Regions from separate parts of the Homo sapiens genome. Here region 1 is linked to region 2. Evidence: fine-mapped expression QTL. A gene starts in region 2. The other region holds a variant in brackets. All regions are shown on one strand. Distances are from middle to middle. Region 1 has its middle 57 kb from the start of ATF7IP2. Region 2 holds the start of ATF7IP2 (activating transcription factor 7 interacting protein 2).

What was found. PIP is the estimated chance that this variant, and not a neighbour inherited with it, causes the effect.
Region 1: its variant is fine-mapped to the expression of ATF7IP2 in whole blood (TOPMed, PIP 0.99).

What each region holds. Positions count from the first base shown.
Region 1 is chr16:10,321,157-10,336,479 of GRCh38, forward strand. No RefSeq gene overlaps it. Among named protein-coding and RNA genes, the nearest start is that of ATF7IP2, 57 kb to the right of the region's middle. RefSeq lists a cis regulatory region at 1,986-2,307 and silencers at 8,396-8,690, 10,403-10,603. The variant G/A (reference allele first, on the strand shown) is at 8,303.
Region 2 is chr16:10,379,010-10,394,332 of GRCh38, forward strand. ATF7IP2 (activating transcription factor 7 interacting protein 2) reads left to right here and starts at 7,052. Exons shown (of 14, transcript NM_001393719.1): 1 at 7,052-7,113. RefSeq lists an enhancer at 3,406-3,475 and silencers at 3,676-3,745, 6,791-6,930.

The sequences.
Region 1 (15,323 bases), 58 kb before region 2:
ATATATTTATATATTTATATATATTTATATATATTTATATATTTATATATATTTATATATATGTATATATATGTATATATATTTATATATATGTATATATATTTATATATATGTATATATATTTATATATATATTTATATATATATTTATATATATTTACATATATTTATTTACATATATTTATATATATTTACATATATTTACATATATTTTTATATATTTACATATATTTATATATATTTACATATATTTACATATATATTTACATATATTTTTATATATTTTATATATATTTATATATATATTTTTATATATTTTTATATATATATTTTTATATTTTTATATATATATATATATATATATGTATGTATGTATATTTGAGACAGGGTCTCGCTCTATTGCCCAGGCTGGAGTGCAGAGTGGCATGAGCTTGACTAAGTGCAGCCTCACCCTCCTGGGCTCAAGTGATCCTCTCACCTTAGCCTCCTGAGTAGCTGGGACTGTAGGCAACGCACCATCATGCCTGGCTAATTTTGTTCATTTTTTGTAGAGACAGGGTCTCACTATGTTGCCTAGGCTGGTCTCAAATTCCTGGCCCCAAGTGATCCTCCCACCTTGGCCTCCCAAAGTTCTGGGATTGCAAGACTGAGCCACTACGCTCAGCCTTAGCTTTGTTATTAATTTGGAAGGCTTTTACATCTGTTTCCCAACTGATGGGAGTAAAGACATGCCCTTGCTATGTAGGTCTAAGAAGCAGCTGCAGACATGGCTTACATACCCCCAGCCCCCATTCCTTCCTCTCTCAGTTGCTCTTCCTTGAACCATACCTGCCCCCCCCCTCCAACGTCCTCTTCTCTCTGCCCAAGGGCTGGCGTCTTGGTTGTTTTCTCTTTTAAGCCAGGCTCTAAGTGTTTACTTCTCTTGTTCTATAATGATTTCTCCCTTTCCCAGAGACATGTGACATTTTTCAGCTCCTTATTCTTTTTTCCAAGGGCCTTTATCTGCTCCACTCCCATCTCACCAAGGCCAACCACATTTGTTATCCTCAGAGGCATGCTTTTTATCCATTTTACCCTGTGCACAGCAGCTGGCCCCTACATAAATGAGCTACATTCTCAGCAGCTTTAAGGAAAGAAACTTGAAAGAAGGGGGAACCAAGAAGATATAAAGTTGGGCACCCCTTCTAATAAGGCTTCGAAAGCAGGGGTCACATGGAAAGGCAAGGACTTTCTTTTTTTTTTCTGAGATGGAGTCTCACTCTGTCACCAGAACGCAATGGCCTGATCTCAGCTGACTGCAACCTCCGCCTCCCAGGTTCAAGCAATTCTCCTGCCTCAGCCTCCCAAGTAGCTGGGACTATAGGCACGCACTACCACACCGAGCTAATTTTTGTATTTTTAGTAGACATGGGTTTTCGCCATGTTGGCCAGGCTGGTCTCAAACTCCTGACCTCAAGTGGTCCACCCGCCTCGGCCTCCCAAAGTGCTGGGATTATAGGCATAAGCCACCACTCCCAGCCGACTCTGTCTTTAAAAAAAAAAAAAAATCCGTATTCCTTTTCGTGTTTTTATGGGTCATGGGGTTGTCAGAAAAAGGAAAATTCAAAAGAAACTGTTAACAGTGACCCACAATAGCTACAGTTAGGCACATGGTTTATAAACCTATGACTATATGGCCGGGTGCAGTGGCTCATGCCTGTCATCCCAGCACTTTGGGAGGCCAAGGTGGGTGCATCACTTGAGGTCAGGAGTTCAAGACCAACGTGCCCAACATGGTGAAACCCCGTCTCTACTGAAAAATAGAAAAATTAGCTGGGTGAGGTAATGGGTGCCTGTAATCCCAGCTACTGCAACAGCTGAAGCAGGAGAATTGCCTGAACCTGGGAGAAGGAGGTTGCAGTAAGCCGAGATCATGCCACTGCATTGCAGCCTGGGCAACCAAGCGAGACTCCGTCACAAAACAACAACAACAAAAAAAACCCTATGCCTATAAACTAAAGCTGACCTCTTGCCTGTGTGCCTGTGTAACTGGAGCTTGTTAAACATTTCACTGACAGGTACTGGGTATAAACTTGTTTATCTGAGGTAGAACAAAGACAGGCTGGAATCAGCCACCCTCCACCAGGCCCTAAGATGCCTAACCTTTCTCCTGACCCGCTCAACTGCTCTTTTACCTTATCTTATGTATACAGTCACGGAGCACCAATGAGAATCACAAAAATGTAACCCTTGCTTCTCTCCCCTCTTCTCCTACCTTCTGTGCCACACACATCCTCCTGTTTGAAAATGTGTATATACTGTGCCTTGCACAACCTACATTGGGACAGATTCTTGGTCTATATTGAGTATGTGTTCCCAGGCTTCAGTCCTCCAACTTGACTCAGAGTAAATCTAACCGTGATTTCTCTAAGTGCTAGCACTTGTAATTTCACTTTTTGGTTGGCAGGGTCACAGATTTTTTTCTCTCCTCCCTAAAGCTCTTCCCCTGGTCCACCCATCTTTTTTTACCTGCAGGTATATTTGCACAGAGAAACCAGAACTAACAAAAATCTACAGTTATGACCATTATCAATACCCAGTTTCGGAAAGTTTCTGTGGAAACTCCCTATGATCAGACAAAAATATTGGCCTGTGCATAGGAATTCAGTAGTGGCCATTTCAAAAGCAAAGTCTATAGAAAGATGTTAAAATGAAAATAAATACACTAGCCAAAAAAAAAAAAAAAAAAAAAAACCCCAGCTCAGCCAGGCGAGGTGGCTCATGCCTGTAATCCCAGCAATTCGGAAGGCTGAGGCAAGAGGATCACCTGAAGTCAGGAGTTCGAGACCAGCCTAGCCAACATGGTGAAATCCCGTCTCTACTAAAAATACAAAAATTAGCCAGGCATGGTGGTGTGTGCCTGTAATCCCAGCTACTTGGGAGGCTGAGGCAGAAGAATTGCTTGAACCCAGGAGGTGGAGCTTGCAATGAGCCAAGATCGTGCCATTTGCACTCCAGCCTGGCAACAAGAATGAAACTCCATCTCAAAAAAAAGAAAGAAAAGAAAAAGAAAGAAAAGAAAAAAAAAATAGGCTGAATTGCAAATACAACAAAGACAAGTGGAAATTTATAGCCCAGAAACAGGGTAGGGATCCATGAGTGGAAAATTAGCTAAAGGAAACATTAGTGGTAAGAGAAGAGGATTCTGGCTAAATGGACCTAACAGGACTCTTGCTGCAGGTAAGCCAGGGTGATCTGGAATGTGATCAGATATCCAGGGTTGAGGATTCTGGCTAAACTGACTTAGCAGGATTCTTGCTAAAATTGGGCGATACAAAAAAAAAAAAAACACCATGGAAGTCCAAGAGTTGAGACCTAACTGGGAAGAGGATTTCGATGAATCTCCCTAAAGCTTGGTCAAGGGGAGGCTCTTTGTCAATCCTTAAGACAACTACTCTAGCCAACCACAGTGGCTCATGCCTGTAATCTCAGCACTTAAGGAGGTCGAGGCGGGTGGATCATTTGAGGTCAGTGGTTTGAGAACAGCCTGGCCAACATGGTGAAACCCCATCTCCACTAAAAATACAGAAGTTAGCTGGATATAAAAGTGTTATTCTCTTTTATAAATGAGAACATTGAGGGGTACAGAGGGCTACTAGCTGTGGCATTCAGTATACCATGCTTAGCCAGGAGATTTTATGGAGGGAATGGTGGGTGTAGGTCAATCTGCCATACATGCAGCCACTTCTTCTCAATCAGTGGTCACTTAATCCTCTCCTTGTACCTCAACTTCATTTAGAGGATAATTAACTACCGTAGGAGTGAAAAGGTAATAAGTTATCCTCACCCATTACAAGGGTCATTGCCAACACTCCTACAACAAAAGACAGATTAATAAGAGAAAAACATAACAAATGAATTTAACAAAATTTTGCATGACACGAGAGCCTTCAGAAACAAAGACCCAGAGGAAACTGTATTTTTATGCTGAGATTCACTGGAAAATGAACAGTTGTGTACAAAGATGATTTGACAAGAAGAGTATGATCTACTGTTAATAAACTGGGGGTGGTGCAGGGCCTCTGGGCATAGAGCAGGATCTCTCTGGAATTGTCACCAGAAAGGGGTTCCTTTCCAGACCCCAAGAGAGGGTTCTTGGATTTCACTCAAGAAAGAATTTAGGGCGAGTCCATAGAGTAAAGTGAAAGCAAGTTTACTGGAAAATTTAAAAAAATAAACAAATGGTCCAGGCATGGTGGTTCATGCCTGTAATCCCAGCACTTTGGGAGGCTAAGGCAGGTGGATCACCTGAGGCTGGGAGTTGGAGACCAGCCTGACCCACATGGAGAAACCCCGTCTCTACTAAAAATACAAAAATTAGCCAGGTGTGGCTCTGGGTGCCTGTAATCCCAGCTACTCAGGAGGCTGAGGCAGGAGAATCACTTGAACCCAGGAGGCGGAGGTTGTGGTGAGCCGAGATCACGCCATTGTATTCCAGCCTAGGCGACAGAGTGAGACTCCATCTCAAAAAATAAAAAAAATAAATAAAAGAATAGCTATTATTCCATAAGCAGAGCAGCCCCAAGGGCTGCTGGTTGCCCATTTTTGTGGTTATTTCTTGATGATATGCTAAACAAGGGGTGGATTATTCATGCTTCCTCTTTTTAGACCATATAGGGTAACTTCCTGACGTTGCCATGGCATTTGTAAACTGTCATGGTGCCGGTGGGAGCATAGCGATGAGGACACCCAGAGGTCACTCTCATCGCCATCTCGGTTTTGGGTTTTAGCCAGCTTCTTTACTGGAAGCTATTTTATCAGCAAGGTCTTTATGACCTGTATCTGGTGCCAACCTCCTATCTCATCCTGTGACTAAGAATGCCTTAGCCTCCTGCAAAAGCCGCCCAGTAAGTCTCAGCCTCATTTTACCCAGTTCCTATTTAAGATGGAGTTGCTCTGGTTCAAGTGCCTCTGACAGAATGAGGATCTTAGGTCCTACTTTCAGGCAAGGTAATGTAACTGTGTAACAGATTCTCCTTGCCCACTGCCTCGACAGAGCCAATTTAAACTGATGCATTAAGACAGGGGAATTGCAATAAAGAAAGAGTTTAATTCACACTGAGCCAGCTGTACGAGAGACCAGAGTTTTAATATTACTCAAATCAGGCTGCCCAGAAACTCAGGGATTGGGGTTTTTAAGGATAATTGGATGGGTGGACATTTGGAAGGTGGAGAGTGCTGATTGGTTAGGTCAGAGATGAAGTCATAGGGAGTGGAAGCTGTCCTTTTGCGCTGAGTCAGTTACTGGGTAGGGGCCACTAGACCAGATGAGCCAGTCTATCGATCTGGGTGGTACCAGCTGATCCATCAGGTACAAGGTCTGCAAAATATATCAAACACTGATCTTACGTTTTATGATAGTGATGTTACCCCCAGGAGCAATTTGGAGAGGTTCAGAATCTTGCACCCTCTAGCTACATGACCCCTAAACCATAATTTCTAATCTTGTGGCTAGTTTGTTGGTCCTGCAAAGGCAGTCTAGTCCCCAGGCCGGAAGGGGGTTTGTTTTGGGAAAAGGCTGTTATCATCTTTGTTTCTAAGTTAAACTATAAATTAAGTTTCTCCCATAGTTTAGCCTATGCCCAGGAATGAACAAGGACAGCTTGGAGGAGAGAACCAAGATGGAGTCGGTTGGGTCAGATCTCTTTCACTGTTATAATTTTCTCAGTTATAATTTTTGCAAAGGCACTTGCAATCAGCCAGAGAATTCCTTTATGGCCGGCTCTCACACTGAAAGGTAGGGGAGGGTCAGAGCCGCTTTCTTGCTTCTGAGGCTATTTCAGTTGCCAAGATGCCACATATCGGAGTATCATGTTCTGAGAACCAACAGGAGTAACCTTCAAGGCCTCTCAAGGTGAAACTCACATATTCTTTGTTTTGTTTTGAAACAGGGTCTCGCTCTGTCACCCAGGCTGGAGTGCAGTTGCATGATTATAGCTCACTGCAGCCTCCAACTCCTGGGCTCAATCGATCCTCCCGTCTCAGCCTCCCAAGTAGCTGAAACTACAGGCATGTGCCACCACACCCAGCTAATTTTTTTTATCTTTATTTTTATTTTTTGAGATAGAATTTCACTCTGTCACTCAGGCTAGAGTGCAGTGGTGCAATATTGGCTCACTGCAGCCTCTGCCTCCCGCGTTCAAGTGGTTCTCCTGCCTCAGCCTCCCAAGTAGCTGGGACTACAGGCGTGCACCACCTCACCCAGCTGATTTTTTTATTTTTAGGAGGGACAGGGTTTCACCATGTAGGCCAGGCTGGTCTCAAACTCCTGACCTCGAGTGATCCACCTGCTTCAGCCTCCCAACGTGCTGGGATTACAGGCATGAGCCACCACACCCGGCCACCCAGCTAATTTTTAATTTTTTTGTAGACAACGCCTTGCTGTGTTGCCCAGGGTAGTCTCAAATTCCTGGGCTTAAGGATCCTCCTGCCTTGCCCTCCCAAAGTGCTAGGATTGTAGGTGTGAACCACCATGCCCAGCCAGAACCCACATATTCTTCTTTGCCTGTATTCCAAGTGAAGAGCATCAGGACATGCTACCCTAAAATATGCCACTTTGACATAAGAATTATTTTGAGCTGAAGGCATTTCATTTTCTAAAACCCCTAAAATAAGTCAAAGAAACTCAATTGTCATAAATCCCCTTCCCAGGAACAATTCTACTCTTCTCAGAGAGGAGTCGCCAGCACACCCAAGCACTCATTGTCACAAGACCATCATATCTCCTATCTGTTCTCATAAGGGCCCATTCATCCTTCCAAAAAGTCATTTGCTTTTCCATAAATGCCCTTTCACTGCCCCCTCCCACCTGTCCTCTGCTAAGTTAGGTATTATAGAGCCCCCAATTTTTATGTATTAGTTATTATTATTATTATTATATTTTTGAGATGAAGTTTCACTCTTGTTTCCCAGGCTGGAGTGCAATGGTGTGATCTCAGCTTTTTGCAACCTCTGCCTCCTGAGTTCAAGCGATTCTCTTGCCTCAGCCTCCCGAGTAGCTGGGATTACAGGCGCCCGCCACTAGGCCCTGCTAATTTTTGTATTTGTAGTAGAGACGGGGTTTCACCATGTTGGCCAGGCTGGTCTCAAACTCCTGACCTCAGGTGATCCACCCTCCTCGGCCTCCCAAAGTGCTAGGATTACAGGCATGAGCCACCATGCCCGGCCTATTATTATTTTTTTGAGACAGGGTCTCATTCTGTCACCCAGGGTAGAGTGCAGTGGTGCAATCATGACTCACTGCAGCTTCAACCTGGCCTAGAGCCCAGATTCTAACCACTGCTTTTGTCAGAGGCCTTAAAACCAGCATGCCTCCATCTTGAGTGAGGGCTAGGAAAATGAGGCTGGGACTTACGGGGCTGCATTCCCAGAAAGGTATTCCTAGCCTCTAGATGTTTACAGTTAAGGGAACAGATTGATAGTGTTTACCGAACAGACTCAGACTTGGGAGTGTCCAGATATCCCGATATCTGGAGAGCAAAGGCATCCCTAATTTTGGTTTAAAGATAATAGGCCTGGCATGGTGGCTCACACCTGTAATCCCAGCACTTTGGGAGGCTGAGGTGGGCAGATCACCTGAGGTCAGGAGTTCCAGACCAGCCTGGCCAACATGGCGAAACCCCGTCTCTACTGAAAATACAAAAATTAGCTGGGCATGGTGGTAAACACCTGTACTCCTGGTTACTCGGGAGGCTGAGGCAGGGGAATCGCTTGAATCTGGGAGGCAGAGATTGCAGGGAGCTGAGATAGCACCACTGCAATCCAGCTTGGGTGACAGAGCAAGATTCTTTTTTTTTTTTTTTTTTTGAGACAGAGTCTCACTCTGTTGCCCAAGCTGGAGTGCAGTGGCCCCATCTCGGCTCCACCTCCCGGGTTCATGCCATTCTCCTGCCTCAGCCTCCCGAGTAGCTGGGACTACAGGTGCCCACCACCACGCCCAGCTAATTTTTTTAGTAGAAACGGGGTTTCACCACGTTAGCCAGGATGATCTCGATCTCCTGACCTCGTGATCCTCCTGCCTCGGCCTCCCAAAGTGCTGGGATTACAGGCATGAGCCACTGCGCCCGGCTGCAAGACTCTTATCTCAAAAAGAAAATAATAAAAATAGGCCGGGCATGGTGGCTCACGCCTGTAATCCCAGCACTTTCGGAGGCCAAGCTGGGCAGATAACCTGAGGCCTGGAGTTTGAGACCAGCCTGACCAACATGGAGAAACCCCATCTCTACTAAAAATACAAAATTAGCCAGGCATGGTGGTGCATGCCT[G/A]TAATCCCAGCTACTCGGGAGGCTGAGGCAGGAGAATCGCTTGAACCTGGGAGGTGGAGGTTGCAGTGAACCGAGATTGCACCATTGCACTCCAACCTGGGCGACAGAGTGGAACTCCGTTCAAAGAATAAAAAAAAAAAAAAAAAAAAAAGCCCCAGAACTTGTGACATTAACCTGTGCTTGCAGATGTGCTTGCTTACAGAAATGAAGGCCGGATGTCAGTAACCACAAACGAGCCACAGGATAAGAACTGTGGCTCCCAAGTCTGAGTCTGTATAGTAAACACTACCATCCTGCTACCCGGACCTGAATCCTTGCTTTTTCGCTGTATGAAAATATTCACCTGGGATGGGGAGAAATGTGCTTTGCTAGGCATATATAGTGCCAGTGGAAAAGAAAGAAGGAGACTGTGCATGCTCCAGTTCTCCCTGGAAGGTCCCACCTTTTTCCATAAATCACCACCCCCCAGTCTCCACCTACATGTTCTAAGAGACCTTAAAAACCCCCCTTCACCATACCCTCAGGGAGAAGGTGCTTTGAGCATGTGCTCTACTTCTCCATTTCTTTTCTTTTCTTTTCTTTTCTTTTCTTTTTTTTTTTTTTGAGACAGAGTTTTGCTCTGTCGCCCAGGCTGGAGTGCACTGGTGCAATCTCGCCTCACTGCAACCTCCGTCTTGCGGGTTCAAGCAATTCTCCTGCCTCAGCCTCCCAAGTAGCTGGGATTACAGGCACCCACCACCATGCCCAGCTAATTTTTTTTATTTTCTGTACAGATGGGATTTCACCATGTTGGCCAGGCTGGTCTCGAACTCCTGACTTCAGGTGATCCACCTGCCTCAACTTCCCAAAGTACTGGGATTACAGGTGTGAGCCACCACGCCCGGCCTGAAATTTTTTTTTTTTATCAACACGGAACTCCAAAAGTTGAAACCTACTGGACAAAGAGTTTAGGAGAACCTGAGTAGAGTTTGGTGAAGAAGAGAATCTCTGTCACAGGTCATTTGAGTGTTTGAATAGAGCATTGTTCTACGCTTGACATCGGGGACTCTATCTTGGGCTACTGACCCCAGACTGAACTAATGATGAACTTTTTTTTTTTTTTTTTTTTTGAGACAGAGTCTCTGTCTCCCACGCTGGAGTGCAGTGGCACGACTATGGCTCAGTGGCTCACTGCAGCCTCAACCTCCCAGGCTTATGCAATCCTCCTGTCTCAAACTCCTGAGTAGCTGGAACGACAGGTGTGCACCACCACACCCAGCTAATATTTTTGTATTTTTTGTAGAGACAGAGTTTCACCATGTTGCCCAGGCTGGTCTTGAACTCCTGGGCTAATCTGCCTGCCTCAGCCTCCCAAAGTACTAGGATTTTAGGTGTGAGCCACTGTGCCTAGATTGGGTGGTGGACTTTGAGACCCACAAAGAACTGTGAAAAACAGTTCTCTCACAAACAACCATGCTCTCGACAATATACAATACAAGGAATCTGGTCCTAATCTTTAGGGACAGTCTGTGTAGTTTTTTCCTAACTGACCCAAATGTACCCTTCCACTAATGACTAACAACTTCTTTGCTTAATCCATCAATAAAATAATCTGGTAATTTATGTCATCTGAAAAATTTCCTATAAGCCTTTCTTGTCCCTCTTGGGTGGTGGTCTCTGGGGCCTGGTTGCAACCCCCATTCCTGAATAAATGCTTATTTGCCTCTGACCTGTTGATTCCTTTTTTTTTCTTTCTTTCTTTTCTTTCTTTCTTTCTTTTTTTTCTGATAGTCTGGACAAAATCTGAACAGAATTTACAGAAAAGTAGAAGAGAGAATAATTGAAGCATCTCTTATTGGGTCAGGTGCAGTGGCTCACTCCTGTACTCCCAGAACTTTAGGAGACTGAGGCGAGAGTATCACTTGAACCCAGGAGTTCAAGACCAGCCTGGACAACAGAGCAACACCCCGTCTCTACAAAAAGTAAACAATAAATTAGCTAGGCTTGTTGTGCGCGTCTATAACCCAGCTACTCAGGAAGCTGAGGCAGAAGGAGCACTTGAGCCCAGGAGCCTGAGGCTGCAGTAAGCTATGATGGAATGACTGCACTACAGCCTGGGCAACAGAGTGAGACTTGTCTCCAAAAAAATAAAAATTTAAAAGAAAATCTTATCTCTGGATTGCCTCCTGTACTCCTCCTTCTATGTCAGCCTTGGAGGTGCGTGTTTACAGTTCCAAGGATCAGAAAGCCCATAATTTTTTTTTTTTTTTTTGAGACGGAGTCTCGCTCTGTGTCGCCCAGGCTGGAGGGCAGTGGTGTGATCTCGGCTCACTGCAACCTCCACCTCCCGGGTTCAAGCGATTCTCCTGCCTCAGCCTCCTGAGTAGCTGAGATTACAGGTGCGTGCCACCATGCCCAGCTAATTTTTGTATTTTTAATAGAGACAGGGTTTCACCATGTTGGTCAGGCTGGTCTCAAACTCCTGACCTTATGATCACCGGTCTCCTCAGCCTCCCAAAGTGCTGGGATTACAGGCATGAGCCACTGTGCCTGGCCTCAGAAAGCCCATGATTTTGTGCTATGAAATCAAAAGGCTGGACCTTGTAAAGGAGCCAGTGGTCACCTCCAGCTCCCCTTTAGCTCCTATGTGGGCTCTTTGGCTGGATCTAGACACCAAATTGACACCATGCAGATTAACAAAAGTATATACATTTTATTAGTTTTACCTGTACATGGGGGTCTTCATAATAGCGTGAAGTTCAAACAAGTGGCTAAAGATAGATGCTTGTATACTATTTGTACACTATTTAGATTACATTTGAGAAGAAATGACAGGAAAACCTGGCTAGGGCAATAAATTTTCTAGGGGAGTTGCTAGGAGATATATGGGGGTGTCAAACAGTGGAAGATAAAGATTGTTTCATTAAGTATGTTTATTCAGGTCCATCACAGTCCCCAATTCCCAGTCTCTGGTGATAAGGGCTATTTTCTCACCCTGGTATGTGACAGCCCTCCTCCCAGAGGAATTTTTATGGCCTGCTGCATGCACAAAGAGAGAGGTCAGTTAGCCCTTTTTAATTTTTTTTTTTAGAGCAAGGTCTTGCTCTTGCTCTGTCACCAGGCTGGAGTGCAGTGGCATGATCATAGCTCACTACAGCCTCAAACTCCTGGGCTCAAACCATCCTCTTGCCTCAGCCACTCAAGTAGCTGTGATTACAGGCATGCTCCACCAAGCCCAGATAATTATTTCACTTTTCTTTTTATAGAGATAGGGTCTTGCTATGTTGCCTAGCTGGTCTCAAACTCTTGGGCCCAACCAATCTTCCTGCTCGTGAAGAATCACATTCTTGGGCCCGAGCACGGTGACTGACACCTGTAATCCCAGCACTATGGGAGGCCAAGGCAGGCACATCACTTGGGCTCAGGACTTCAAGACCAGCCTGGCCAACATGATGAAACCCCTTCTGTACTAAAAACACAAAAATTAGCTGGACGTAGTGGTGTGTGCCTGTAATCCCAGCTACTCAGGAGGCTCAGACAGGAGAACTGCTTGAATCTAGGAGGCGGAAGTTGCAGTGAGCTGAGATCACGCCACTACGCTCCAGCCTGGGCAATAGAGCAAGATTCCATCTAAAAAAAAGAATCATTTTTTTGTTTCTTGTGAAGATCCCCATGTACATGTAAAACTAATAAAATGTGGGCCGGATGGGGTGGCTCATGCCTGTAATTCCAGCACTTTGGGAGGCTGAGGTGGGCAGATCACAAGGTCAAGAGATCGAGATCATCCTGGCCAACATGGTGAAACCCCGTCTCTACTAAAAATACAAAAATTAGCTGGGCGTGATGGCGCATACCTGTAGTCCCAGCTGCTTGGGAGGCTAAGGTAGGAGAATCGCTTGAACCCGGGAGGCGGAGGTTGCAGTGAGCCGAGATCGCACCACTGCCCTCCAGCCTGGGTGACACAGAGAGAGACTCCGTCTCAAAAAAAAAAAAAAGTGTATATTTCCTCTTGAGTGGGTGTGGTGATGCACACCTACAGACCCAGCTACTCAGGAAGCTGAAGTAGGACAAATGCTTGGGCCCAGGAGGTGAAGGCTGCAGTGAGCTGTGATTGCGCCATTGCACTCCAGCCTGGGCAACAAAATGAGACTCTATCTCAAAATAAATAAAACAAGCAAACATACCAACCACAATTTCATCAATGTTTTCAACTCGAAATAATCAATATGCCAATCTAGCATATTTTGGGTTGGCACGTTCTTCACTCCTTCAACTTTTTGTGGGGCCTGTTATGTTTTTAAGGAGACACCCTGGGAGGAAGGAGGAGAAGGCCATCGCCTCCCCCCTCATTATTAAACAAAAAAAAGGTTGCTCCCCTTGTCCCTCCTCTGTCCCACTGGTGCCTCTTCTGTCAATTCTGCCAAGATTCCACCCTCAACTCCAAATCAAGAAATGCATCTGAGGCCACTATATGTGTAAAAAACCTTCCTGAAGGGCAGGAGAACTCAGGAGGCATTATACATTTCATCCATGCACTATCAACCAACACTGGGGAGCCACAAACAAAGGGAGGGACTTTTATTTTATTTTATTTTTATTTTTTTGACACAGAGTCTCGCTTTGTCATCCAGGGTAGAGTCCAGTGGCACGATCTCAGCTTACTGAAAGCTCTGCCTCCAGGGGTTCAAGTGATTCTCCTGCCTCAGCCTCCCGAGTAGCTTGGATTACAGACATGCGCCACCACACCCGGCTCATTTTGTATTTTTAGTGGAGACGGGGCTTCACCATGTTGGCCAGGCTGGTCTCGAACTCCTGACCCTGTGATCTGCCCATGTCGGCTTCCCAAAGTGCTGGGATGACAAGCGTGAGCCACCGTGCCCCGCCCATTTTATTTTTGAGACAGAGTCTCGATCTGTCACCCAGGCTGGAGTGCAGTGGAGTGATCTCAGCTCCATGCAATCTCCACCTCCCAGATTCAAATGATTCTCCCACCTCAGCCTCCTGAGTAGCTGGGACTACAGGCATCCGCCATCATGCCCGGCTAATTTTTGTATTTTTGTAGAGATGGGGTTTCCCCATGTTGGCCAGGCTGGTCTGGCATTCCTGACCTCAGGTGATCCACCATCCTTGGCCTCCCAAAGTGCTGGAATTACAGGCGTGAGTCACTGCACCTGGCCCAGGAAGGCATTTTAATCAGGGTTTTTATGCATTGCAATTTGGGAGAAACAAATCTAGCAAGTAGCTAAAACGTGTTTCAGCCAGGCAAGACTCTAGGCAGGGGTTTCTAAAGGTTTACTGCAAGTTTACCTAAGCGGAAGACAGTAGCACAGTCTGTGATTGACACATGACCTGTCAACCTCAAAGGGAGAAGCTGAGACAATATTAATATAAAGTTTATTTGGGTCAAGGTTGAGGGCAGCAGTCCAGGACACACTTCCAACTTGCTGTGGGGCGTGCTCCAGAGGACATTAGAGAGGCTGAAGTTTTTAAAGAAAAAATAACCAATGAGGAGAGAGGGTGATTACAAACATTGTTAGGAATTCTCATGGGTTTACAGAAATAACATTGGCTAGTGATTGGCTATATATTGGTGAACTGTAGGGCATTTGGTATTTTAGGGGTACGTGGCCTTAGTTAAGTGTAGAAGCCACACAGCAAGTGGCTTCAAGAGGTGATTATTATTTGGCTGGGTGCAGTGACTCAAGCCTGTAATCCCAGCACTTTGGGAGGTTGAAGTGGGAGGATGACTTGAGCCCAGGAGTGTGAGACCAGCCTGGGCAACATAGGGCGACTATATCTCTGCTGAAAACTTTTTAAAAATTTAGCCGGACATGGTGGTGCACACCTGTAGCCCCAGCTACTCAGGGGTGAAAGCCAGAGGATTGCTTGGGCCTAAGAGTTTGAGACCAGCCTAGACAACACAGTGAGACCCTGTCTCTACAAAAAATTTAAAAATTAGCCATGCATGCTGGTGTGTGCTTGCAGTCCCAGCTACTCAGGAGGCTGAGATGGGAGGATCACTTGAGCCCAGGAGGGGGAGGCTGCAGTGAGCTGTGACGGTGCCACTGCAGTCCAGCCTGGGCCACAGAGGCGGACCCTGTCTCTGAAAAAAAAAAATAAAAAATAAGGTGATTATTAATTCAAAGGGAAGTAACCTAACTGCTGTTTCATTTCAATGCCTCTTTGGCCTGATGGCTTAAAGGGGCCTGTATTCCTTGAATAAAACATTTCTTCTTGTTTTTTTCATTTGTTTGTTTTTTCCTCCCCCTATAGGCCAGCTGACAGCTTAGAAAGACTCTAGGCCATGATCAGCTTAAAATTCAGCACAGCTGTGTCTTCAGGAGGTTCGTGATCTGCCCCAGTGTGAGCAGTTCAAACCCAATGAAGCTGCTTCTCCAGAACGTTTGCGATCTGGCCCAGTTCAAACAGGTCAGATCCCTCTGGATCCATATATGACTGAGGGCCAACTTTTGCCCTCCTGGCTCCTTGACAGAGACCTCCGACAAATCATCTCCACGTTGGCTTTCTTTCTTTTTTTTTTTTTTTGAGACGGAGTTTTGCTCGTTTCCCAGACTGGAGTGCAATGGCGCAATCTCGGCTCACCGCAACCTCCGCCTCCTAGGTTCAAGCGATTCTCCTGCCTCAGCCTCCTTAGTAGCTGGGATTACAGGCATGTGCCACAATGCCCAGCTAATTTTGTATTTTTAATAGAGACAGGGTTTCTCCATGTTGGCCAGGCTGGTCTCGAGCTCCCGACCTCAGGTGATCCGCCCACCTCGGCCTCCCAAAGTGCTGGGATTGCAGGCGTGAGCCACCACGCCTGGCCTCCATGTTGGATTTCTTTTCACAGCACTGTGTCAAAATATAGCAGGAATTATTGCAACAGCAACTGTTATTAATCACACCGTAGAGCAAATCATAAGAAAACTGCAAGAACATCTTTTTTTTTTTTTTTTTTTTTTTGAGACAGGGTCTCACTTTGTCTCCCAGGCTGCAGTGCAGTGGCATGATCAGGGTTCCCTGCAGCCTTGACCTCCCAGGC
Region 2 (15,323 bases):
TTTTTTTTTTTTTTGAGATGGAGTCTCGCTCTGCTGCACAGGCTGGAGTGCACTGGCGCGATCTCGGCTCACTGCAACCTCTGTCTTCTGGGTTCAAGCGATTCTCATGCCTCAGCCTCCCAAGTAGCTGGGATTACAGGCTCCCACCACCATACCCAGCTAATTTGTGTATTTTTAGTATAGACAGGGTTTCACCATCTTGGCCAGGCTGATCTCGAGCTCCTGACCTCAGGTGATCTGCCTGCCTTGGCCTTCCAAAGTGCTGGGATTACAGGCGTGAGCCACCGTGCCTGGCCTCATATGGCTTTTGAAAGAGAATCAATCTGGCCAGGCATGGTGGCTCATGCCTATAATCCATCACTTTGGGAGGCCAAGGCAGGTGGATCACGAGGTGAGAAGATGGAGATCATCCTGGCTAACACGGTGAAACCCCGTCTCTACTAAAAATACAAAAGATTAGCAAGGCATAGTGGCACTCGCCTGTAGTCCCAGCTACTCAGGAGGCTGAGGCAGGAGACTCGCTTGAACCTGGGAGGCGGAGGTCGAGGTGAACCGAGATCGCGCCATTGCATTCCAGCCTGGGCAACAAGAGCAAAACTCCTTCTCAAAAATAAAATAAAATAAAATAAAAAATCCAATAAAGACCAATACATAATAGTCTAACCTCAGAGTTTTTTTTTTATACTTGACAGTCTGAAAACTACATATAATTCTGACTTCTTATGTTATTTTGTGGCTGCTAAAGCCCTCCAATAGATAAAGAGGTGGCAATTGTCTATGAAAAGAGTCACCATCTGTAAAATATGTGAAGAGATTTATTCTGATCCAAATATGAGCGACCATGGCCCATGACACAGCCCTCAGGAGGTCCTGAGAACATGTGCCCAAAGTGGTAGGGGTGCAACTTGGTTTTATACATTTTAGGGAGGTATAAGACATCAATCAAACACGTTGAAGAAAAACATTGGTTTGGTCCGGAAAGGCAGGGGTGATGGGGGCTTCCAGGCTATAGGAAAATTTAAACATTCTGATTGATGATTGGTTGAGTTTGTCTAAAGACCTGGGATCAGGCTGGGTGCAGTGGCTCACGCCTGTAATTCCAGCACTTTTGGAGGCTGAGGCAGGTGGTTCATCTGTGGTCAGGAGTTCGAGACCAGCCTGGCCAACATGGTGAAACCCCGTCTCTACTAAAAATACAAAAAAATTAGCCGGGCATGGTGGTGCACACCTGTAATCTCAGCTACTCTGGAGGCTGAGGCAGGAGAATCACTTGAACCCAGGAGGTGGAGGTTGCAGTGAGCCGAGATCGTGCCACTGCACTCCACCCTGGGCTGTGCAACAAGAGTGAAACTCCACCAAAAAAAAAAAAAAAGACCTGGGATCAAGAAGTGTTCAGATGAAGATAAAAGACTGTGGAGACCAAGGTTCTTTTGAAGTCTTATAGTGGCTGCCCTTAGAGACAACAGATGACACATGTTTCCTATTCATACCTTTAAAGGGTGCTAGACTTTTACTTAATCTCTTCAGGATTGGGAGGGCCTGGAAGAAAAATATCTAGCTGTGTTAATAGAGATTCTTTACAGATGCACATTTTGCTCCACAAAGGACAGCTTTGCAGGATCATTTCAAAATACGTCAAAGAAACATATTTTGGGGTAAAATATTTTGACTTTCTTGTCAGGTTGGAAAGTAAGTCATGATACATGGGTTTTATACCCAACTGATGAGAATTTATGGTTTGTAGGGCGTGACTCCCCAGGTCCCTTAAATAGGAATTTGGCCAACATTTTTAAAAATCAGAGTTTAGTCCTCACAATGCATGTGTGTTTTCTTTTCTTTTCTTTTTCTTTTTCTCTTTTTTTGAGACAGAGGCTCGCTTTGTTGCCCAGGCTGGAGTGCAGTGGCACGGTCTCAGCTCACTTCATCCTCTGCCTCCCAGGTTCAAGTAATTCTCGGGCCTCAGCCTCCCAAGCATCTGGGATTACAGGTGCCTGCCACCTCAACCAGATAATTTTTTGTATTTTTAGTGGAGACAAGGTTTCACCATGTTGGCCAGGCTGGTCTCGAACTCCTGACCTCGTGATCCGCCTGCCTTGGCCTCCTAAAGCACTGGGATTACAGGCGTGAGCCACCGCACCTGGCCCCTTTTCTTTTACTTTCATCTTCTTTTTTTTTGGTCTTGCTCTGTCACCCAGGCTGGAGTGCAGCCTGGAACTCCTGGGCTGAAGTAATCCTCCCACTTCAGCCTCCTGAGTAGCTAGAAATATAGACACACACCACAACACCTGGCTAACCAAAAAACAAAACAAAACAAAAAAAACAAAAAAACTGTAGAGACAGGGTCTCTCTATGTTGCTAAGGCTGGTGTATGTTTGTTTTCAAGCTAGGAATGTTCATGATAGGTTAGAGAAAAGGTAGAATAAACTGGCATTTTGTAGTGCCAATATGGTATCACACTAATAGCCCCTTAGGAAATAAAATACTAACACACGTTTATTGAACACTTACTATTGGTTAAGTACTCTATTGAGCACTTTACATGAATTGGGTCAATGTAATTTAATTCATGTAATAATTCTAAATGGTTACATTTTTACTATGTGTTACATATTGTTAGTAATTTCATTCTATATGTCAGGAAACTCAGGCATGGAGAAGTCTATTAATTAGGGTTCAGTCATGGAAAAATGAAACCACTCCAGATATTTCAAACATAATGGTATTTAGTACAGAGAATTAGATGCTCATAAGTTTGTAAGGGCTGGAGGAGCTACTGTCACATTGGTTTTCTTTCTTTTTTTTTTTTTTTAGACAGAGTTTCACTCTTGTCACCTAGGCTGGAGTGCAATGGTGCGATCTCGGCTCACCGCAACCTCTGCTTCTGGGTTCAAGCAATTATCCTACCTCAGCCTCCTTAGTAGCTGGGATTACAGGTGCCCGCCACCACGCTTAGCTAATTTTTGTATTTTTAGTAGAGACAGGGTTTCATCATGTTGGTCAGGCTGGCCTTGAACTCCTGACCTCAGGTGATCCGCCTGCCTCGGCCTCCCAAAGTGCTGGAATTACAAGCGTGAGCCACCACGCCCAGCCTCACATTGGTTTTCATTTGTGCTGCTGCCTCTGTGGTCCAGAGAATAAGAAGGGTGCTGCTTCTGCTGCCCAAAGGGCAGAAAAGTTCAGAAAACCACTGTTGTCACAGCTGCCTTTAAATAACTGAGACAGGGACTGGTGCGAAAGAGAGCCAAAGCCTAAGGAAAAAACCCACAATAACATGTATCTCTGCCACTTTTCAAATTTCAGGAAGTGCATTACACTGGGTAAAACACAACTGAATCCAGAATACAGGAGGCAAGGGCTCCTGGGAAATGTAGTTCATAGGGTTTCCGCCTTGCCTTAGGGAGTGCTGAGAAGTGTGTGGAATGAATGCTTGCATTTGTTTTCTATTGTTGCCATAAAAAGTTACCACAAACATAATGGCTTAAAACACTACCCACTTATCTCACAGTTCTATATAGAAGTCAGAAGCACAGTGGACTCAGCTGGGAACTCTGCTTAGGGTCTCAATAGGCTGTCAGCCAGCTAAGGCTCTGCAGAAGAATCTGCTTCTGGGTTCATTCAGGTCGTTGGCAGTACTACTTTCATTCTCAAGGTTTACATGTGGTCCCCCTCATCTTCAAGCCAGGAACCATGGGCTGAGTTCTGCCTGTGCTTTGAAAATCTATGACTTTCCTTTCTGCTGCATCTGTGTGACTTGTCTTTTGCCTTTAGGGATTCACGTGATTACACTGTACTCACCAGGGAAATCCCGGTTAAGTTCTCCATCTTAAGGTCAGCTGATTACAACCTTAATCATATTTGCAAAGTCCCTTTTGCCATGTAAGGTGACTTATAACCATAAGACGCACACTAGGAGACAAAGATCATGGGAGTACAAATTCTGCCCGCCACAATCCTCAATGGAAGAAAACTATCAAACAAGAAAGCATTCCAACACAAAAATGTAAAGAATTTACTCAAGATAATTGATATTCTCAGCTTTATTAATTTTAATAATAATAGTTACTATACATCAAGTGTCTACTATAAGTCAGGAAATGTACAAGCAACTGTATCTGTTATTATGTTAAGCATTATTTTAAAAAGTCAAACAGCAAATTGAGAGACTTCATAGTACTTCATATAGCACATTATGTGAATGAATTTATTTATTTATTTATTGAGATGGAGTCTCGCTCTGTCACCAGGCTGGAGTGCAGTGGCGTGATCTTGACTCATTGCAACCTCCTTCTTTCAGGTTCAAGCAATTCTCCTACCTCAGTCTCCCAAGTAGCTGGGACTACAGGTGCGCACCATCATGCCCAGCTAATTTTTGTATTTTTAGTAGAGACAGGGTTTCACCATGTTGGCCAGGATGGTCTTGATCTCAAGTGATCTGCCCACCTTGGCCTCCCAAAGTGCTGGGATTACAGGCATGAGCCACCGCACCCAGCCAACAATAAACTTTATTAACATAATGTCCAGTAAATATCAATTATTATAATTTTTTTATAGAGATGGGGTCTCGCTATATTGCCCAGGCTGGTCTCAAACTCCTGGGCTCAAGCTATCTGTCGGTCTTGGCATCCTAAAATGCTAGGATTACAGGTGTCCACCTGGCCTATTATATTACTATTGTTAAAATGACATACAAGATATCCTAGTACCTTAAATAGACATAACATTTCTAAAGGCTAGTTACTCACTGTTAACTGAATTAAGTCCAAATTCCTTATCTGACTGCAACTTACTACCTCCCACTCCCTCCCACACTATCTCTCTTAGCAACCCTATAATTATTTTCAAAATCATGTTCTAGAACAACAAAAAATGTGCAAAGATTAGGATTGTTTTACATTTTTGCTAATTTCCTTAACGTCTGACTTAATACAGTAAGACTCTCTCTCTCTTTTTTTTTTTTTTTTGGTTTTTGAGACGGAGTCTCACTCTGTTGCCCATGCTGGGGTGCAGTAGTGCGATCTTGGCTTACCACAAACTCCACCTCTCGGGTTCAGTCGATTCTCCTGCTTCAGCCTCCCGAGTAGCTGGGATTACAGGCACGCGCCACCATGCCCGGCTAATTTTTGTATTTTTAGTAGAGATGGGGTTTCACTATGTTGGCCAGGCTGGTCTCGAACTATTGACCTCATGATCCGGCTGCCTCAGCCTCCCAAAGTGCTGGGATTACAGATGTGAGCCACTGCGCTTGGCCTCTCTCTCTCTCTTTTCTAAGACAGTCTCTTGCTCTATCACCCAGGGTGGAGTGCAGTGACACTATCACAGCTCACTGCAGTCCCTAACTCCTAAGCTTAAGCGATCCTCCCGTCCTCTCAGCCTCCCGTGTAGGTGGAAGGATGCAGCTAACTTTTTATTTTTACTTTTCTAGAAAAGTGGGTATCTCACTTTGTTGCCCAGGTTGGTAGTTAGATTCTCATGTCTGCTTCTGTATTCAATCTGTAGCAATATCACCCGTCGATTTTCCAGAGGCTTCTAGAAAATTCCATGTACTCTCCTGACTCAGAGAATGAAAAAAGCAAAATCATCTTTATATTATTATAAAAATAGTATAATTATAAAAATAGGATTGACATTAAAGATTACCCCTAGATCCCTGGAGCATATTTGGGGAACTGGCTGGTTGGAGTATGTTATTCCATTGATGACCCAACCTAGATTGTCCGGACTTGCCTCATTTTTCTCCTAACTGGAAGTGACAAGGCAGGCAGCTCTAGCCTCATGACAAGCGTGGTGGCTCACGCCTGTAATCCCAGCACTTTGGGAGGCCGAAGCAGGTGGATTACCTGAGGTCGGGAGTTCATGACCAGCCTGATCAACATTGAGAAACCCCGTCTCTACTAAAAATAAAAAAAAAACTTAGCCAGGCACTGTGGCGCATGCCTATAATCCCAGCTACTTGTTGGGGGCAGAGGTAGGAGAAGCGCTTGAACCCGGGAGGCGGAGGTTGTGGTGAGCCGAGATCGCGCCATTGCACTCCAGCCTAGGCAACAAGAGCAAAACTCTGTCAAATAAATAAATAAATTAATTAATGAAAAAGAGGGCATTATGGATCTAATCTACTGTTGTATTTCCTGTATTTTCTACACAGTGGGCATTCAGTGACCACCTGTTGAGTGAGTTCATGGCATCCAAGTGCACAGCCACCTAAGGCATCGGGCCTCATGAAATCACAAGCAGCCAAGGCTGGCAGGTTCCTGGGACAATTTAGCAAACTCAAGGCTATGGTGCGGGTGGGTGCAGTGGCTCATGCCTGTAATCCCAACATATGGGGAGGCAGAGGTGGCGGATCACCTGAGGTCCAGGAGTTCAAGACCAGCCTGGCCAACATAGTGAAACCCCATGTCTATTAAAAGTACAAAAATTAGCCGGGCATGGTGGTGCACACCTGTGGTCCCAGCTACTCGGGAGGCTAAGGCAGGAGAATCGCTTGAACCTGGGAGGTGGGAAATGGGGGTACAGTGAGCTGAGATCACGCCACTGAACTCCAGCCTGGGCGACAAGAGCGAAACTCCGTCTCAAAAAAAAAAAAAAAAAAAAAAGACTACGGTGCTAGGACCAATCTCCTGAGTCACAAAATTTAAGGAGTCGTCCAAAAAAGTAAATAAGATAAATATTTTCAAACAATATTAGAAAATTCAAATCGGAAACTACCGACCGGGTGAGGAGTTGTTTTTGTAAATAAGGTCTTATTCCTAATAAGTTTCGAAAGTCTAAATCTTCACACGAGTCACTCAAAAGAAAGGCCCAGCTCAGGAGCCTGCATCTGCGCTATGGCGGGTAAGCCCCGGTGGCTGACCGGAAGAAGCGCCCACGGAGGCGAACCCCAGGCGCCCCTCAGCCTACTTCCATTTCCCCTCGCGACCCTTCGCCCCGCCCACTCTAGCTGGCTGTGCCTGACTGGCTGGGCTGCCGCATATTCGCGCTGCCATTGGTCCATAATCAGCTGGGGGTGGGCGTAGGGAGACCTACTTCAGCAGGTCCTGGCCGGACCAGCATTGTTAACGGCTGCGGTTCGAAGTGGCTGTGGGTATTGCTGCGGCTGGTGCGTCGTCGCTCTAGGTACGTTGGGGCCGGGCGAGTGTCCTGCGAGAGCGGCGATTGGCGGGGTGGCGGCTCTAGGAGCGTCGGTCGCCTCTCTGAGGGCCGGCCCCGGAGGCCTCGGAGCGCCGGGCCTACCGGACGTTTGCGGCGAAGCTGCCCTGACTGAAAAGCGTCCGCGGGGCCGTCTGACAGGTCCGGGAAGAGGCCCCTGAGGGGCGGACGGGCGCGTCTCCACCGTTTTCGCAGAGGGATACTGGTGAAGCGGGAGTGGTGTGCGGCCTCAGGTCCGGGCGGCACTGGGGTTAGGGACTGCGGAGGGAAGTGGTGCGTGTTTTTTGTCCTGAGGGGTAAGTAAAAGCTCGCTCTTGTCCGGAATGCTTTCAGAAATTAACGGATAAATCTCCACCTCCACCAATTTTAGTGTCCCATTGCCAAATTTTCTTGAGTTGTTTTAATCATCTAATGAAGTCAGGTGCCAGAAGGCAACTGGATCTCGCCTGGCGGCCTTGAAGTTTGTTAAAAAGTAGGGACCAGAGCATCAGGAAAAATACAAAATTCTGAGTAAAATGCTGAAATCCCGTACCTCTGAGCTTGCCGGTGTAAGGATGGTAGGATTTAAGGAAGACGATTTCCTTAAGGTAGAAGTTCGTTTTTATGAATATGTTTTTAAGAAAATTCCATCTTATCGCCCTTCTCTAACCAGTTTTCTCCAAGTTTGGCAAGCAAGTTTGAGAAAGAGAGGACGCAATAATTTTTTTTGCCTTATTTTTGTTAAAACCTTACCGCACTTAAGGAAACGGACTTTCTACCTTTCCGTGTTTCTGTGTTGAAAATGAAGTTTCTAACCACGTGTTCCTTCCTTTACGACACAATGGCTTTTTCTGTTCTGAAGACTTGCATATGGTTAATATGTATGGAAGAAGAGGACAGTTGTACTGAATAGTCCACATTAGAAAAATTATGTCATATTCACTTAAATTGTTATTCTAGATTGCGACTTAATACTGTTTTTATTATGATTTTGTCATATTTATTGTAGCCAGTAAATGACCTGCGACATAACTATTTGCAAAACAAATGGGGAAGACCAAGATAAAGATAAGTTATATCACAGGAAAGCAATTGAAAATGCAAAAATGAAGCATCTGAATGAAGGACTAATAACACTGAATTCAGCTTTTGTGAAGTATGCCTTTCTTCTTAGCTCGTTTATTCTGCAATACGTTTGTAGAAGTGTTGACTCCGATCTTAATCAAATTTACTTCACTCTCAGTCTTATCTGCAGATATGTACAGACCACATCCTAAGATTGACTTCTGCCTCAACAGAAATACATGAGCCAGTGCCTTATTGGAAATGATTTGCGTGTTTTAAGAACTGGTGTATATAGGTACATCTTGAATGTTCTGCTTTCCTTGCCTTATGCCTGTACTTCACCTCAGCCTTCAATTCCATTGTGTTTCCTTGCTACTTGGTATCTTGAAATCTGGTACGAAACTATTGCATGATCCCTGCACCTTTGCTTCTGCATATATCATAGCTCTCTTATAGTGAGTGTGCACAATCTATTTCATTTGATGTAATCAAAGTTTAATATATTGGATAGTTAAAAATAAAATACAACTTTAAATGCGCAAGAGTATTAGTTCTCATTGTTGAGCGAGATGATACAAAATACCAAAAAATCTTATTCTCTCATTCTATGTCAGTCTATTTTACTCCCCCCCCCTCCCCCCGCCACCCGGACACACACACACTGCGGTGACTTATCTATCTCGTTTATTTTATTTTATTTTACTTATTTATTTTTCTTTGTGAGGCAGAGATTCGCTCTTTGGCTCAGGCTGGAGTGAAGTGGCGCGATCTCGGCTCACTGCAACCTCCTCCCTCCGGGTTCAAGTGATTCTCCTGCCTCAGCCTTGCAAGTAGCTGGGATTATAGGCGCCCGACTAGTTTTTGTATTTTTAGTAGAGATGGGGTTTCACCGTGTTGGCCAGGCTGGTCTCGAATTCCTGACCTCAGGTGATCAGCCCGCCTCTGCCTCCCAAAGTGCTAGGATGACAGGCGCTAGTCTTAGCGCCCGGCCTATCTCATATTTTTATATCATTTAGATAATTATTCTGCTTTACAGTAGACTAGGATAGTTTTTCATCTTCATTTTTACCAACGATGGGACAGATTGGAGTCAGCCAGTGTCTAGAGAGAAATAACCATGACTTTTTGGAGGAAAGGGAGATAATATATTGGATTTTTTTGAACTTCTGATTAAGCCATGAAATGTTTAGAGAGGTGTTACTGAAGTTAGCCATGAATTATTTAGAGGCATTATATGTGTCTACTAAATGTGGTCATAAGTTTCATTAGTATACCTCTGAGGCTCTAGTGTGTACAGTATGCTGATGTGAAATAGCTTATCAGATAGCCATGGCAAAAGTTGCCAAGGCCTTTTTAGTACTCTTTACTAAGGAGACAGTGACTTTGGGAGGCTTTTCAGTACTTGTTATTAAGGAGAGAATAACTCTGGGTGGCTTTCCAGAGGTTTGTTTTTTAAGTGAATATTCATTAAACAGCATTAAAACTACTGTAAGAAAGGCATGTCACTGAAGATATAAAAAATATTTGTAGGCCGGGCGCGGTGGCTCACACCTGTAATCCCAGCACTTTGGGAGGCTGAGGCAGGTGGATCACGAGGTCAGGAGATTGAGACCATCTTGGTTAACATGGTGAAACCCCGTCTCCACTAAAAAATACAAAAAAATTAGCCGGGCGTGGTGGCCGGCGCCTGTAGTCCCAGCTTCTCGGGAAGCTGAGGCAGGAGAATGGCGTGAAGCCGGGAGGCGGAGCTTGCAGTGAGCCGAGATCGCACCACTGCATTCCATCCTGGGCGACAGAGCAAGACTGTCTCAAAAAAAAAAAAAAATTATAGTGGGAAATTTAGATAAAGAAGTAGTAGTTCTCTCGGGGCTGTTTTTTTGAGGAGGTGATCTTTAAGCTTGATCTTGAAAGAGCATAGACTAGGAGGGAAGGTTGATAATATGACAGTTCTGGTCAATTTGGAAAGTGAAGGTTAGGTTTATAAGAAGGTTCAGTTGATATCTCCAGGAAAAGACAAACTACTGTGAAAGAAAGATAGTGTAGTCATGGTAGTCTATCTGGCTATATAGAGAATATTTATAACAACTTAAATATTGATTTAACTGAAAATACGATGAGCTGTAAGAGACGTGTGAACTACAGAACTGGATCTACGAATGACAGGAGGGCAGACCACAGTGCTTTTCACATCCTCCCCTCCTTCCCTTGGGCATAAGACCTGGCTATAGGAAATCTAGCTAATTACAAGAACGTCTTTATAATTTGGAGGGAAACTCTTGGAACTGTGAGTGCTCCCCGTCCAGTGTTACCATCCCCTACCATCCAATTAAAATGTTTCCAACCCACCTCCAAAAAAAATACATATGTGAGCTAAATCTTCATCTGCAATTACAGGAAATCGACATGGCTAAAATTTGTAACTCAAGAAACAGTATGAAAATATTTTAAAATACTGAGATTTTAAAAACAAGTTGTTAAAATTAAAGTGATTGCCATTAGATATTCGGGAGTGCTGGCAAGCAACTGCTTTATTTCATAATGAGCATTTTATACTATTACATTGATAAAACTTGAAAAAAGTAATGTCAGAATTCTATTAGCATTCAGGTGATGCGGATGCTGCTGGTCTATGAACCACACTTGGCATTACTTCATGGTCATTATGAGATTAACTGCCACCTGGCCTGAGTTTTGTTATTTTGTTAACCACTATATAACTCTTAAAGGGCCCTGTCGCTTCATAATAACTGTTTTGTGTTTGTGATAGACTTCTTCGAGTCTTAAGACCCTCCGTTCAAATATTGGCTGAAGTACCTGACTTTGAACAAGATTAGTTAAATGGGTTTTTTCTAAATTTTTACTTTTTAAAAAGAGTAACAGTAAAAATTCAGTTCAGTAGTTTTTTTTAATTTAATGAGAATTGTTCTTATTAAAGTGTTTATTATGTATTAAGATACTACCTTGGAGAACATCACTGGAGAACAGAGATGTTTTATAATGGAGAAACCCAATGAAGCAGGAAAAAACCCAACTAAATCAGCATGCACCCATAACTTCGAACTATAACAGGAAAAAAGATTAAGCTAACTTTTAACCACAAAGATACAGGAAATATGTTATTGCTTGGAAAGTAACATGCTTGTGAATAATCTACAGGTTAAAAAATTACAATGCATCTTAGAGAATATTGGATAAATATCAAATTATAAGGTAGAGTTTTTCAAAACTTGTGGGCTCAACTAAAGTAGGGCTTAGAGGAAAATTTACAGCTTTAAGTGAGAAATTAGAAAAAAAGGTAATAGGCTGGGCATGCTGACTCATGCCTGTAATCCCACCACTTTGTGAGGCCAAGGTAGAGGATAACTTGAGGTCAGGAGTTTGAGACCCACCTGGGTAACATTACACAGGACCCTGTCTCTACAAAACAATGTTTTGTAAAATTAGCCAGCCATGGAGGGACACACTTGTAGTCCTACCTCCTTGGGAGGCTGAGGCAGTAGGATTACTTGAGCCTAGGATTTTGAGGTTGCAGTGAGCTGTGTTCATGCCACTGCACTCCAGCTGGGTGACAAAGTGTGACTCTAAAAATGAAAAGGAAAAAGAGAGACTGAAAAAATATCTGAGTTTTTACCTGAAGCTGCAACAAGAACAGCAAAGCAAACGCAAAGAAAGCAGAAGGAGGGTAGGGCATTGTAGCTCACATTTGTAATCCCAATGGTTTAGGAGGCCAAGACTGGAGGATTACTTAAGCCTAGGAATTTGAAGCCAGCCTGGGCAGCATAATGAGACCCCATCGCTATGAAAAACAATTAGCTGGGTGCAGTAGCATGCGCCAGTAGTCCTAGCTACTCTGGAGAATGAGATGGGAGAATTGCTGAGCCCAAGAGTTCAAGGTTACAGTGAGCTATGATCGCGCCATTGCATTCCAGCCTGGGCCACAGAGAGAGACCCTGTCTCAAAAAAAAAAAAAAATGTGCTGGGCGTGGGGGCTCACACCTGTAATCCCAGTACTTTGGGAGGCTGAGGTGGGTGGATTGCTGGAGCCCAGAAGTTCAAGACCAGCCTGGGCAATAAAAATTTTAAAAAGACCAGGCGCTGTGGCTCCCAGCTACTCAGGAGGCTGAGATGGGAGAATCACTTGAACCCAGGAGGCAGAGGTTGCGGTGAGCGGAGATCTTGCATTGCACTCCAGCCTGGGCAACAAGAGTGAAACTCTGTGTCAAATAAAAAAAGAAAAGGAATATGGCAGGAAATTATGAAATGGAACACTGTATAATAGGAAGCTAGCAAACTTAAAGTACTTTGACAGCCTCTTTTTGTCTTTTTTGTATTTTTGTTGACTTTGACAATCTTGGTACATGTTTAATAAAAATGATCAAGAAAAAGAGAAAAGCACATCACTAATATCAAGAATGAGGCCGGGTGCAGTGGCTCATGCCTGTAATCCCAGCACTTTAGGAGGCCAGGTCAGGTGGATTACCTGAGGTCAGGAGTTCAAGTCCAGCCTAGCCAACATGGTGAAACACTATCTCTACTAAAATACAAAAATTAGCTGGGCATGGTGGTGCACGCCTGTAGTCCCAGCTGCTGGAGGGCTGAAGCAGGAGAATTGCTTAAACCCGGGAGGTGGAGGTTGCAGTGAGCTGAGATCGTGCCACTGCCTTTCAGCCTGGGTGACAGAGTGAGATTCTGTTTAAAAAAAAAAAAAGAAAAGGAGGGACAGCACTACAGGTATTACACATACAATTAGAGAATACTATAAGAACTTTGTGTTGACAAATTTTAAATTGTGTTGAAATGGAAAAATAGGTAAAATTGACACCAAAAGATATAAAAAGTATGAATGGTTGTATTATCTTTTTTTTTTTTTTTTTGACGGATTTTCACTCTTTTCCCCAGGCTGGAGTGAACGGGCAAGATCTCAGCTCACTGCAACCCCCACCCCCCAGGTTCAAGTGATTCTCTTGCCTCAGCCTCCCAAGTAGCACCCGCCACCATGCCCAGCTAATTTTTGTACTTAGTAGAAATGGGGTTTCGCCATGTTGGTCAGGCTGGTCTTGAACTACTGACCTCAGGTGATCCACATGCCTTGGCCTCCTAAAGTGCCGGGATTATAGTCATGAGCCACTGCGCCTGGCCTTTTTTTTTTTTTTTTAAACTGGAGATGACATCTCCAAGATGGTTTTGAACTCCTGGGCTGTTTGAGCCTTGGCCTCCCAGAGTGCTAGGATTACAGGTGTGAGCCACTGCTCCCAGCTGGTTCTACCTCAATTTTAATGGAAAACCTTTACCACTAAGTTAACCCCAGGCCCAAATGGCATTAGTGGTTAATTATTCTAATATTTAAGGAAAAATAACACCATTCACACAGAAATTGTTCAGAGACTAGAAAGACTTTGTAGTTTGTATGAGGTCAGCAAACCTTTGATATCAACACCCAATAAAATAGACCCATCTCTCATTAACATTGATATAAAAATTATAAACATAATGTTAGCCATTTATAGGCCAGGCACAGGCCCATAAATTGTCTAATGTCAGCACTTTGGGAGGCCAATGCAGGAGGATTTCTTGAGCCCAAGAGTTGAAGACCAGCCTGGGCAACATAGTGAGACTCTGTCTTTAAAAAAAAAAAAAAATTAGCTGGGTGTGATGGGCGCCCCTGATGTCCCTGCTACTTGAAGGGTCAGGTTAGAGTCTTGTTTGAGTCCCGGAGGTTGAGGCTGCAGTAAGCTGTGTTCATGCCCACTGTACTTTAGCCTGAGCAACAACGTGAATCCATGTCTCCAAAAGAAAAGAAAAATGAAGTTTTAAAAATGAAACCATTAGGCCAGGTGCGATGGCTCACACCTGTAATTCCAGCACTTTGGGAGGCTAAGGTGGACGGATCACTTGAGGTCAGAAGTTTGAGACCAGCCTGGCCAACATGGTGAAACCCCCTCTCTACTAAAAATACAAGCATTAGCTGGGCATGGTGGTGGGCACCTGTAATCCCAGCTACTTGGGAGGCTGAGGCAGGAGAATTGCTTGAACCTGGGAGGCGGAGGTTGCAGTGAGCTGAGATTGCCTCAATGCCAGTGCACTCCAGGCTGGGTGACAGAGTGAGACTCTGTCTCAAAAAAAAAAAAAAAAAAAAAAAAAAAGACACCATTGGAAAAATCCTATGGCAGTAAAGGAATAGAACAAAAGGCATGAGACATAAGCCAAAAAGTGAAAGGCAGACATAAATCAAGCTACAGGTGGACCCTGAATTGTGATTTGACATGATTTTTAGTTTATGATGCTACAGAAAGTGATAGGCATTCGGTAGAATATAAAGCCATGAGAAATTCAAGACTTCAGTATAAAATCAACTTTGGGTTAAATTATTTTGCTCAATTGTAGGCTAATATGAGTGTTCTGAACATGTTTAAGGTAGGCTTAGGTTTTGCTATGATGCTCGGTAGGTTAGTTGTACCTGTATTAACTGCATCTTTGACCTAGGATATTTTCAATTTCTGATAGGTTTTTTGGGATGTAATACTACTGCAAGTCACACAGCATCTGTATGTCAATAGTAATATGAAGGCCAGGTACAGTGGCTCATGTCTGGAATCCTAGCACCTTGGTAGGCCGAGGATCATTTGAGGCCAGGAGTTTGAGATGAGCTTGGGCACCATAGTAAGACCTTGTCTCTACAAAAAAATTTTAAAATTAGCTGAGTGTGATGGCACATACGTGTAGTCCCAGCTGCTTGGTAGGCTGATGTGGGAAGATCACTTGAGCCCAGGAGTTCAAGGCTGCAGTGAGCTCTGATCTCAGCACTGTGCATGATAGAGAGACCTATCTCTAAACAAACAAAAACAACCAAGTAATGTCAGGTGTGAAAGGATTAAACAATCCCATGAAATGGCAGAGATTTTCATACTGAAGGGAAAAACAGCCTTGGCCTATAGGCTGTTTACAGGAGACAGACTTTGGATTCAAAGATGCAAATAGGCTGAAAGTAAAAGGATAGATGAAGATACAACATGCAAATAGCAACCATAGTAAAGCTATCGTGCCTATACTGATTTCAGACAAAATATACTGAAACAGTATTGCTGGAGATACATAGGGACATTCTATAATGACAGAAGAGTTGGTGCCTCAGG